3 separate regions of the Homo sapiens genome follow, and all the other regions are linked to region 1. The links come from fine-mapping of genetic effects on gene expression. A gene starts in region 1. Each other region holds a variant in brackets. All regions are shown on one strand. Distances are from middle to middle. Region 1 holds the start of PNPO (pyridoxamine 5'-phosphate oxidase). Region 2 has its middle 29 kb from the start of CDK5RAP3. Region 3 has its middle 11 kb from the start of MIR10226.

Evidence for each region.
Region 2: its variant is fine-mapped to the expression of PNPO in transverse colon (CEDAR, PIP 0.95).
Region 3: its variant is fine-mapped to the expression of PNPO in monocytes after interferon gamma (Fairfax 2014, PIP 0.95).

Annotation. Positions count from the first base shown.
Region 1 is chr17:47,940,281-47,942,780 of GRCh38, reverse strand. PNPO (pyridoxamine 5'-phosphate oxidase) reads right to left here and starts at 1,210. Exons shown (of 7, transcript NM_018129.4): 1 at 968-1,210. The coding sequence starts at 1,105. SP2-AS1 (SP2 antisense RNA 1) reads left to right here and starts at 1,377. Exons shown (of 3, transcript NR_103857.1): 1 at 1,377-1,434. RefSeq lists an enhancer at 1,164-1,458.
Region 2 is chr17:47,998,611-48,001,454 of GRCh38, reverse strand. No RefSeq gene overlaps it. Among named protein-coding and RNA genes, the nearest start is that of CDK5RAP3, 29 kb to the right of the region's middle. The variant C/A (reference allele first, on the strand shown) is at 1,461.
Region 3 is chr17:48,020,388-48,023,231 of GRCh38, reverse strand. No RefSeq gene overlaps it. Among named protein-coding and RNA genes, the nearest start is that of MIR10226, 11 kb to the left of the region's middle. The variant A/GAAAA (reference allele first, on the strand shown) is at 1,539.

The DNA.
Region 1 (2,500 bases):
CTAATTTTAATTTTTTGTAGAGACAGGGTCTCACTATGTTGCCCAGGCTGGAAAAACTGCATTTTAAACAAGCGTTTCTAGAAATGCCCACATGCAACCAGATTTGGCAACCAGGGCCCTGGACCCCAATTCCTAAAAGGTTCTCTTGGTTCCCCTCCTGAGGAGCGAAAAGGAAAAGAACTTCCCAGTGGTCAGCAGAAAGTACTGAAGGCAGTAAGCTAAGAGCTTTCTCCTCCCCTCCTCCCCGAGCTAGTCCCCTTCCCCCATATTCCACTTACTTTTTTGTCAAACAGTTTGTAAGCTGTTTGTCACTGTACCCACCTAAAGAGGGGCCCATGACCATGCCCACCTGGCACAAGGAGGTTTGGGTGACCCCCAAATCTCCTTGCCCCAGGGGGTGGCCCCAGAAGCCCTGAGGGGCTGTTTCCTCCTACTCCCCTCCCCCCAGTAGATGACTCCGAGGACCCCTCTTCCCCCGCCCTTGAGGGAGGCCCAGCACAGTCCTGACATCCATCACATGAAACCCCGATTCATTCATCACTAGCTGTGGGACTGAGCAAGTTATTTGACCTTGCTACCTGTCGAGTAGCAGGGTTCTAAGCACTTTACAAACATCTTAGACCATAACATCCCCGTGAGGCAGATACTATCACTTCCCAGATGAGGAAACTGAGGCCCAGATACATTAAACATTCCAACCCAGGCAGGCTCCAAAGTTCGAGCTCTTACCCATTACGAAAGGCTGCCTTTTGAACCCATCTTCATTTGCGTTTCCCCGGAACTCCTCCCCTGGTGGGATGTCTTTGAAGCCCCCTTTTCCCACGGGGGGTGATCCTCAAACCTCCTTGCCCCACCGGGTGGCCCCAGAAGCCCCGAGGGGCTCCTACTACTCCCCTCCCCGCTGTAGATGACTCCGGGGACCCCTTTTCCCCCGCCCCTGCAGGAGGCCTGGCCCTAGCGGCGGCACCTCTCGGTCCCCGCGGTAACTCTTGCGCATGGGTCCCAGGTCCATGGCAGCACTGCGACCACACAGGTGACTGAGGTAGCCTGGCCACTCGGCAGGTCGCCCGAACGTCGCCGTGACGCCCCGCAGCCAGCACGTCATGGGGGGCCGCCGGCCACGTGACCCGGCTGTGGCCCGGCACTGGGTTCCTTTGAGTTCGGAACCAATTTCTCACCCTGGACTTCTACCCCGGGGAAGGAAGGATTTGCCAGTCGCCCAACCAAGCTAACAGGTCCTAAGTCCTCGGAGCCAATGAGTTTCCAGGATCGGAGGAGGGAGACAGACACGGAGAGGTCATTGGTTGGAGCTTTTCGGTAACGAGGCCAATTAGAGCGAGAACAGAGGAACCCAGCGGCCAATGGGTAGCGCCTTTGGGGGCGGGAGCAGAGAGACAAGGAAATGCTGTCACCGCGGTTAACACGCACGTGGAGGTTGGTTAAAGGTATAGGAGGATCTCTTGCAGCTCAGGCGGGGCGGAGGATGTGTCCCGGGGGCTTGAGGGGAGTAGTCAGTATTAAGTGGCTGGCCCATAGTAGGTGCCTGTAGGTGAGCTTAGGGCAGGAAGTACCCCCTGGGAAGGGAGACTAGTGGAATGGGAAAAGAAAAATGGAAAATGGAATTAGGGGCCAGACTCTGAGGCAAGGTGATGGGGACACATAGAGAAAAGGGTAATCTGGTTGTGGGGAGAAATTAGGGCATGAGAGTGGGAGAGGTTGAAATGACTTGTGGACCATGCCCCGAGTGGGGAGGTGCAGTGGGGTGAGGAAGAGACGGTGAGGTGAGAAGGAAGATGGCTGAATGGGAAGGGGGAAGAAGGAAATTTGGGACCAAGGTATCCCAGACCAGAGTGGTTTTCCTCTTCTAGTTTTGGTTTTGTTTTGTTTTGTTTGAGACGGAGACTAGCTCTGTCGCTCAGGTTGGAGTGCAGTGGCGCGATCTCGGCTCACTGCAACCTCCACCTCCCGGGTTCAAGCAATTCTCTGCCTCAGCCTCCCGGGTAGCTGGGATTACAGGCGCCCGCCACCACGCCCGGCTAAGTTTTGTATTTTTAGTAGAGACGGTGTTTCACCATGTTGGCCAGGCTAGTCTCAAACTCCTGATCTCAAGTGATCTACCCGCCTTGGCCTCCCAAAGTGCCGGGATTATAGGCGTGAGCCACCGCGCCCGCCACCTCTTCTAGTTTTAAACCCCTTCCCTCCAGCCTCATTTATTTAAGCAAGGGTCAGAGCATTTTACTCCCTTTGCTCATGGTTTCCCCTGCCATGGTGCACTGGAGTTCATAGGAGCCAGTGTCCTGGTAGATAGCAAGGCTGCCAATGTCCCATTTCTCCAGGGTCTCCCCAATCTTTGTCAAGCTTCCCTTTTTCCACATTTTGCCCATGCTAGGTAGTAGGAGTCTAGCCCCTAGGTCAATGCAAGCAATTGCCAACTGAGAGTACACTGAGCAGGTGGCTGTGCATAGCCTTTCCAGGCTGTGGATGCAAGGCTGAAAAATGG
Region 2 (2,844 bases), 59 kb before region 1:
GAACTCTTTTTTTTTTTTTTTTTTTTTGGTCTTTCCCTATTTGCTAAGGGAAAATGAGGAAATCTCTTTTAGAAACAGAAAGAAGACAAAGTCTTATGACTGGTCAGCTGGTGGTAGCCTTCACCCTCTGCTGTGGGAGGTCAGGAGAGGGAGTGTGCTGGTTCCCAAACACCAGACCCCTCCCCAACGGGAGATTTTTAATAATCAGTATGTCTAGAGGCAGGGTAAGAAATTGTACTTTTTATTTTATTTTTTAAAATTATTTATTTATTTATGTATTTATTTTTTGAGACGGAGTCTCGCTCTGTCGCCCAGGCTGGGGTGCAGTGGCGCGATCTCAGCTCACTGCAGCCTCCACCTCCTGGTTTCACGCCATTATCCTGCCTCAGCCTCCCAGGTAGCTGGGACCACAGGCGTCCGCCACCACGCCCAGCTAATTTTTTGTATTTTTAGTAGAGATGGGGTTTCACCGTGTCAGCCAGGATGGTCTCGATCTCCTGACTTCATGATCTGCCCGCCTTGGCCTCCCAAAGTGCTGGGATTACAGGCGTAAGCCACCACGCCCAGCCTATTTTTATTTATTTATTTATTTTTTGAGACGGAGTCTCGCTCTGTCACCCAGGTTGGAGTGCAGTGGTGCAATCTTGGCTCACTGGGTTCACGCCATTCTTCTGCCTCAGCCTCCTGAGTAGCTGGGACTGCAGGCGCCCACCACCTTGCCCGCCTAATTTTTTTGTATTTTTAGTAGAGACGGGGTTTCACCGTGTTAGCCAGGATGGTCTCAATCTCCTGACCTCATGATCCACCTGCCTCGGCCTCCCAAAGTGCTGGGATTACAGGCGTGAGCCACCGCGCCTGGCCTAGAAATTGTACTTTTTAAATTGTCCCAGGTAATGACAATTCTGATGATTGGCAGATAGAAATCACTAGATTAAATGCCAGGTTTCTTTCAGTTACAAACATTTGTTTCTCCTCTCCTTTTCTTTTGCTTGCTGGCATTTTTTCCCACCAGCTAGAAGATATCAGCCCAGCTGATTCTACTAGGCTTGAAAGATAGCAAGCTTGGGAATATTGAAATCTTCACAGAACCTTGGCAAAAATAGCAGCGAAACATGCTTGCGGGGTGGGCCCTTCCACTACATGCAGAATGAGAGCTCCATGTTCACCCCTACCGTCCCCATCATAAAGACCAGACTGAAATACGATTTTAAGCCTGGTTCAGTAGCCCCATTCTACAAAACGGTACTGAAATACAAAAAATGTCATGGTCAGGAACTGCTGGAGCTATGGCTTGAGCCCTGCATTTGAACACTGGCCTCCACTTCCTGGCTAGCATCCTCCCCACCACATAAATTGATGAAGCTTATTTGGCTCCAGCTCTCCCTGGATTCATTCATTCATTCAGCATTCATTCTCCTGCAGTATCTGAATGGATTCAAATGTCACTTCATTTACCTTCA[C/A]CCTGCAGGGCAGAGGCACAGTTGTGGGGAGGTGGGTGACATTCCCTCCCCTAAAGCCATCCTCCTGCCACCCACTGAGAGATCCGCTAGTGAGAGACTGCTCTGGAGGGTGCCACTACCTGCCGAGGCCACCAGAAGGCCTTGGGACCTGCAGGGTTAAGCAACTCCAGAGGTGCTTCCTGGATCATCAAAGTTGACTTGCCCACACAGACAAGGCTCGATTAGCTAAATACAGTCATAAAACCTAAGCCTCATCATTGTTCGTCATTCTTCCTCCTGCATCACCTCTTGTGGCCTGTTACTTAGACTCACAGGATTGAGAGCTGGCACAAATCTCAGACTTCAAGTCCTGGGTTTTGGCAAAGCTTGATGTGTGTGAGGGGAGTGGGGAACCCTTGTTTCAACCAACCAAAGCAGTTCTGTTTATGTGTGTTTTTTTGTTTTGTTGTTTTGTTTTGTTTTGTTTTGTTTTTCAGACAGAGTCTCACACTGTCGCCCGGACTAGAGTGCAATGGCATGATCTCCGCTCACTGCCACCTCTGCCTCCTGGGTTCAAGCGATTCTCCTGTCTCAGCCTCCTGAGTAGCTGGGATTACAGGCATGCGCCACCATGCCCGGCTAATTTTTGTATTTTTAGTAGAGATGGGGTTTCACCATGTTGGCCAGGCTAGTCTCGAGCTGCTGACCTCAGGGGATTCGCCCACCTCGGTTTCCCAAAGGCATGAGCCACTGTGACCAGCCTGTTTATGTGTTTTTATATAACATGTTAGAGTTCTGGCCAGTGTCGTGCTGCTAAAAGTTTACTGGCTGGCTCTCACTTGGAGTGCTGAAGCCCTGATTTGTAGCCTTTGCTTATTTCTGTGGTGTAAATATTTCCACAAAAGCCCATTTCAAGCCACCAACTGGAAATCCCAGTGCAAAGTTGGGAAATGCACATAATTGGCTTTTAGGATCCAGTGCAAGCCAGCTTCAGCATGGCACTGGTTCTGGTCTTTTTTTTTTTTTTTTTTTAAGACAAAGTCTTGCTCTGTCACCCAGGCTGGAGGGCAGTGGCGTGATCTCAGTTCACTGCAACCTCTGCCTCCCGAACTCAAGCCATCCTTCTGCCTCAGCCTCCCGAGTAACTGGGACTACAGGCATACAACACCATGCCCAGCTAATTTTTGTATTTTTAGTACAGACAACGTTTCACCATGTTGCCCAGGCTAGTGTTGAACTCCTGAGCTCAAGTGATCCTCCAACCTCAGCCTCCCAAAGTGCTGGGGTTACTGGCATGAGCCACCGTTGCCCAGCCTGGTCCTTCTTTTTAAAAAGAAGTGTGGGCCAGGCATGGTGGCTCACACCTGTAATCTCAGCATTTTGGGAGGCTGAGGCAGGTGGATCA
Region 3 (2,844 bases), 80 kb before region 1:
TGCAGGTAATGTTGAATAATTTACCCAAAACAGTCTGGGCACAACCTTACAGACCTCCATTTCCTTCCAATTTAGGTCTCATTCATTCAACAATATTTGTTTGTTGATTCATTATTTCAAATATTTGAGTGTTTGCCATGAGCCAGGCACTGGGGAAAGAAAGAGAGAGACTGATTAGACTCCGTAGTGGGGTGAGGGTGGAGGTTAAAAGGCAGGAAGGGATTTAAGAGATATTTGAAAGTAGAAACGCCTTTAAAAATCAAATGATGTTCTTTATCTTGATCTGAGTAGTAGTAAAAAGTCACAGGCCGGGCGCAGTGGCTCACACCTGTAATCCCAGCACTTTGGGGAGCTGAGGCGGGCGGATCACAAGGTCAGGAGTTCGAGACCAGCCTGACCAACATGGTGAAACCCCGTCTCTACTAAAAATACAAAAATTAGCCAGGCATGATGGCAGGTGCCTGTAATCCCAGCTACTGGGGGAGGCTGAGGCAGGAGAATTGCTTGAACCCGGAAGGCGGAGGTTGCAGTGAGCCGAGATCTTGCCATTGCAATCCAGCCTGGGCAACAAGAGTGAAACTCTGTCTCAAAAAAAAAAAAAAAAAAGTCACAGAGTTTACACTTAAGATATGTGCTCTTTCCTGTAGGTAAGTCATACTTCAATAAAAAAAAAAAGAAATTAATCGAATGGCTGCCAAATTATATTCTAGCATCAATGTGTGTATGGTCCTCATCTGTTTCCTAATCTCTTCCTCATCTCTATGAACAGAAACTGGTAAACATGTTAGATGAGTTTCTAAATAAATAAGAGTGTGAGACACATGTAAATTTTATACTGCACATATAGATTAACGCCATTCCTCAAAATGCACCCTTTGGTAAGAAAAGCAACGTTAATAATAATAATAAAATAAACTCTTTTGGAATGAATTCGTTCAACAGACATTTACTAACAGGCTGTTTCCAGGCCAGGTACCTTGCTGGGGATTGTTGGGAGCTTCTAAAATGAATTGGGAAACACAGTTCCTGACTCAAGGAGATTACAATTTGGCTGGGGACAAAGTCATGTATGCAGATAAGGAAATGATAAATATTCACAGAGGAAACGGTGTATTACATAACATGTAAAGAAGGAAGATGGGGAAAGAGACACCCCAAAGGGAGCAACAACATAAGCAAGGCCAGAGGTAAGGAATCTCCGTTTAGGCTGGGCGCAGTGGCTCATGCCTGTAATCTCAGCACTTAGGAAGGGTGAGACAGGCAGGTTGCTTGAGTCTGGGAGTTCGAGACCAGCCTGGGCAACATGGCAAAACCCTGCCTCTACAAAAAAAAAAAAAATTAGCTGGGTGTAGTGGTGTGTGCCTGTAGTCCCAGCTACTGGGGGGAGAGGGGGCACCGTGGGCTGAGGTGGAAGGATCACTTGAGTCCAGGAGGCTGAGGCTGCTGTGAGCTGAGATCATGCCACTGCACTCCAGCCTGGAGGACAGAGCAAGACCCTGTCTAAAAAAAAAAAAAAAAAAAAAAAAAAGAAAAAGAAA[A/GAAAA]AAAATCTCTGTATTGTTTAAGGAATTTCAGTAGGCAAATGTAACTGGAATGGTGTGTGTCTGCAGGGAGTGTGTTGAGATCTGAGGTTTCTTCTAGATAGGTTGCAACTGGGTCGCAGTGAGCAATGAATGCCATGCTGAAGAATGACTGCTATTTATTGAGTTTGCTACTATATACACCTTAAAATTACCATTGTCCTCAAAACAACCTAACAAAGTAGGTATTGATAGGCTCGCTGCAGCCTCAACCTCCGGGGCTCAAGCTATCCTCTTACCTCAGTCCCCCGAGTAGCTGGGACCACAGGCATGTACCACCACACCCAGCTAATTTTTAAAAATTTTTTAATAGACACGAGGTCTCACCATGTTGCCCAGGCTGGTCTCAAACTCCTGAGCTCAAGCGATCTGTCCACTTTGGCCTCCCAAAGTGTTGGGTATACCGCGCCTGGCCCGTTAGCCTTCTTTTTACAAATGAGAGAGCTGAGAGTCTGAGAGACTGAATAACTTGCCTCAGAGCTCATAGGTGGGATTTAAACCCATTCTGGTCTGACTCCATTGCTGGCTCTTCTTTACCCCAACCACAGAGCTAAAGAACTTGGCTTGTGGCCAGTCGCCATGGCTCACACCTGTAATCCCAGTACTTTGGGAGGACAAGGTGGGTGGATCACCTGAGATCGAGACCAGCCCGACCAACATGGAGAAACCCTGTCTCTACTAAAAATACAAAATTAGCAGGGTGTGGTGGTGCATGCCTGTAATCCCAGCTACTCGGGAGGCTGAGGCAGGAGAATCGCTTGAACCCAGGAGGCAGAGGTTTCGGTGAGCCAAGATCGTGCCATTACACTTCAGCCTGGGCAACAAGAACGAAACTCCATCTCAAAAAAACAAAACAAAACAAAACAAAAAGTCAGTAAAGAACTTGGCCTGTGTTCTGAAGGTAATAGGGAACCACTGAAGATTTTCAAGCTGTTAAGTGATATCAGCTCTATGTTTTGAGGGAGGAACTCTGCTAGCAACATGGAACCTGGGTTAAAGAAGAGAACAGGAATTCAGGGTCAATTTATGACCCCCAAAACGAAATATTTTCATTACAGTCACTTCTCATTCTTGATCTAAAACAGTACCACCCAGCTTGATTGCTGATCTTACTCACCAAGCAGCTTGCAAAAATCAAGTCCACTCTCAGAATTTGAAGAGTTGGTGCTTGAATTAATTCAGATAATTGCAGGCAATCATTCCAAAAAAGGCCCTCCAAAAGGACCATTTTGTCAGGGACAATGATCTGAATATTTAGGTTCTGAAAAGT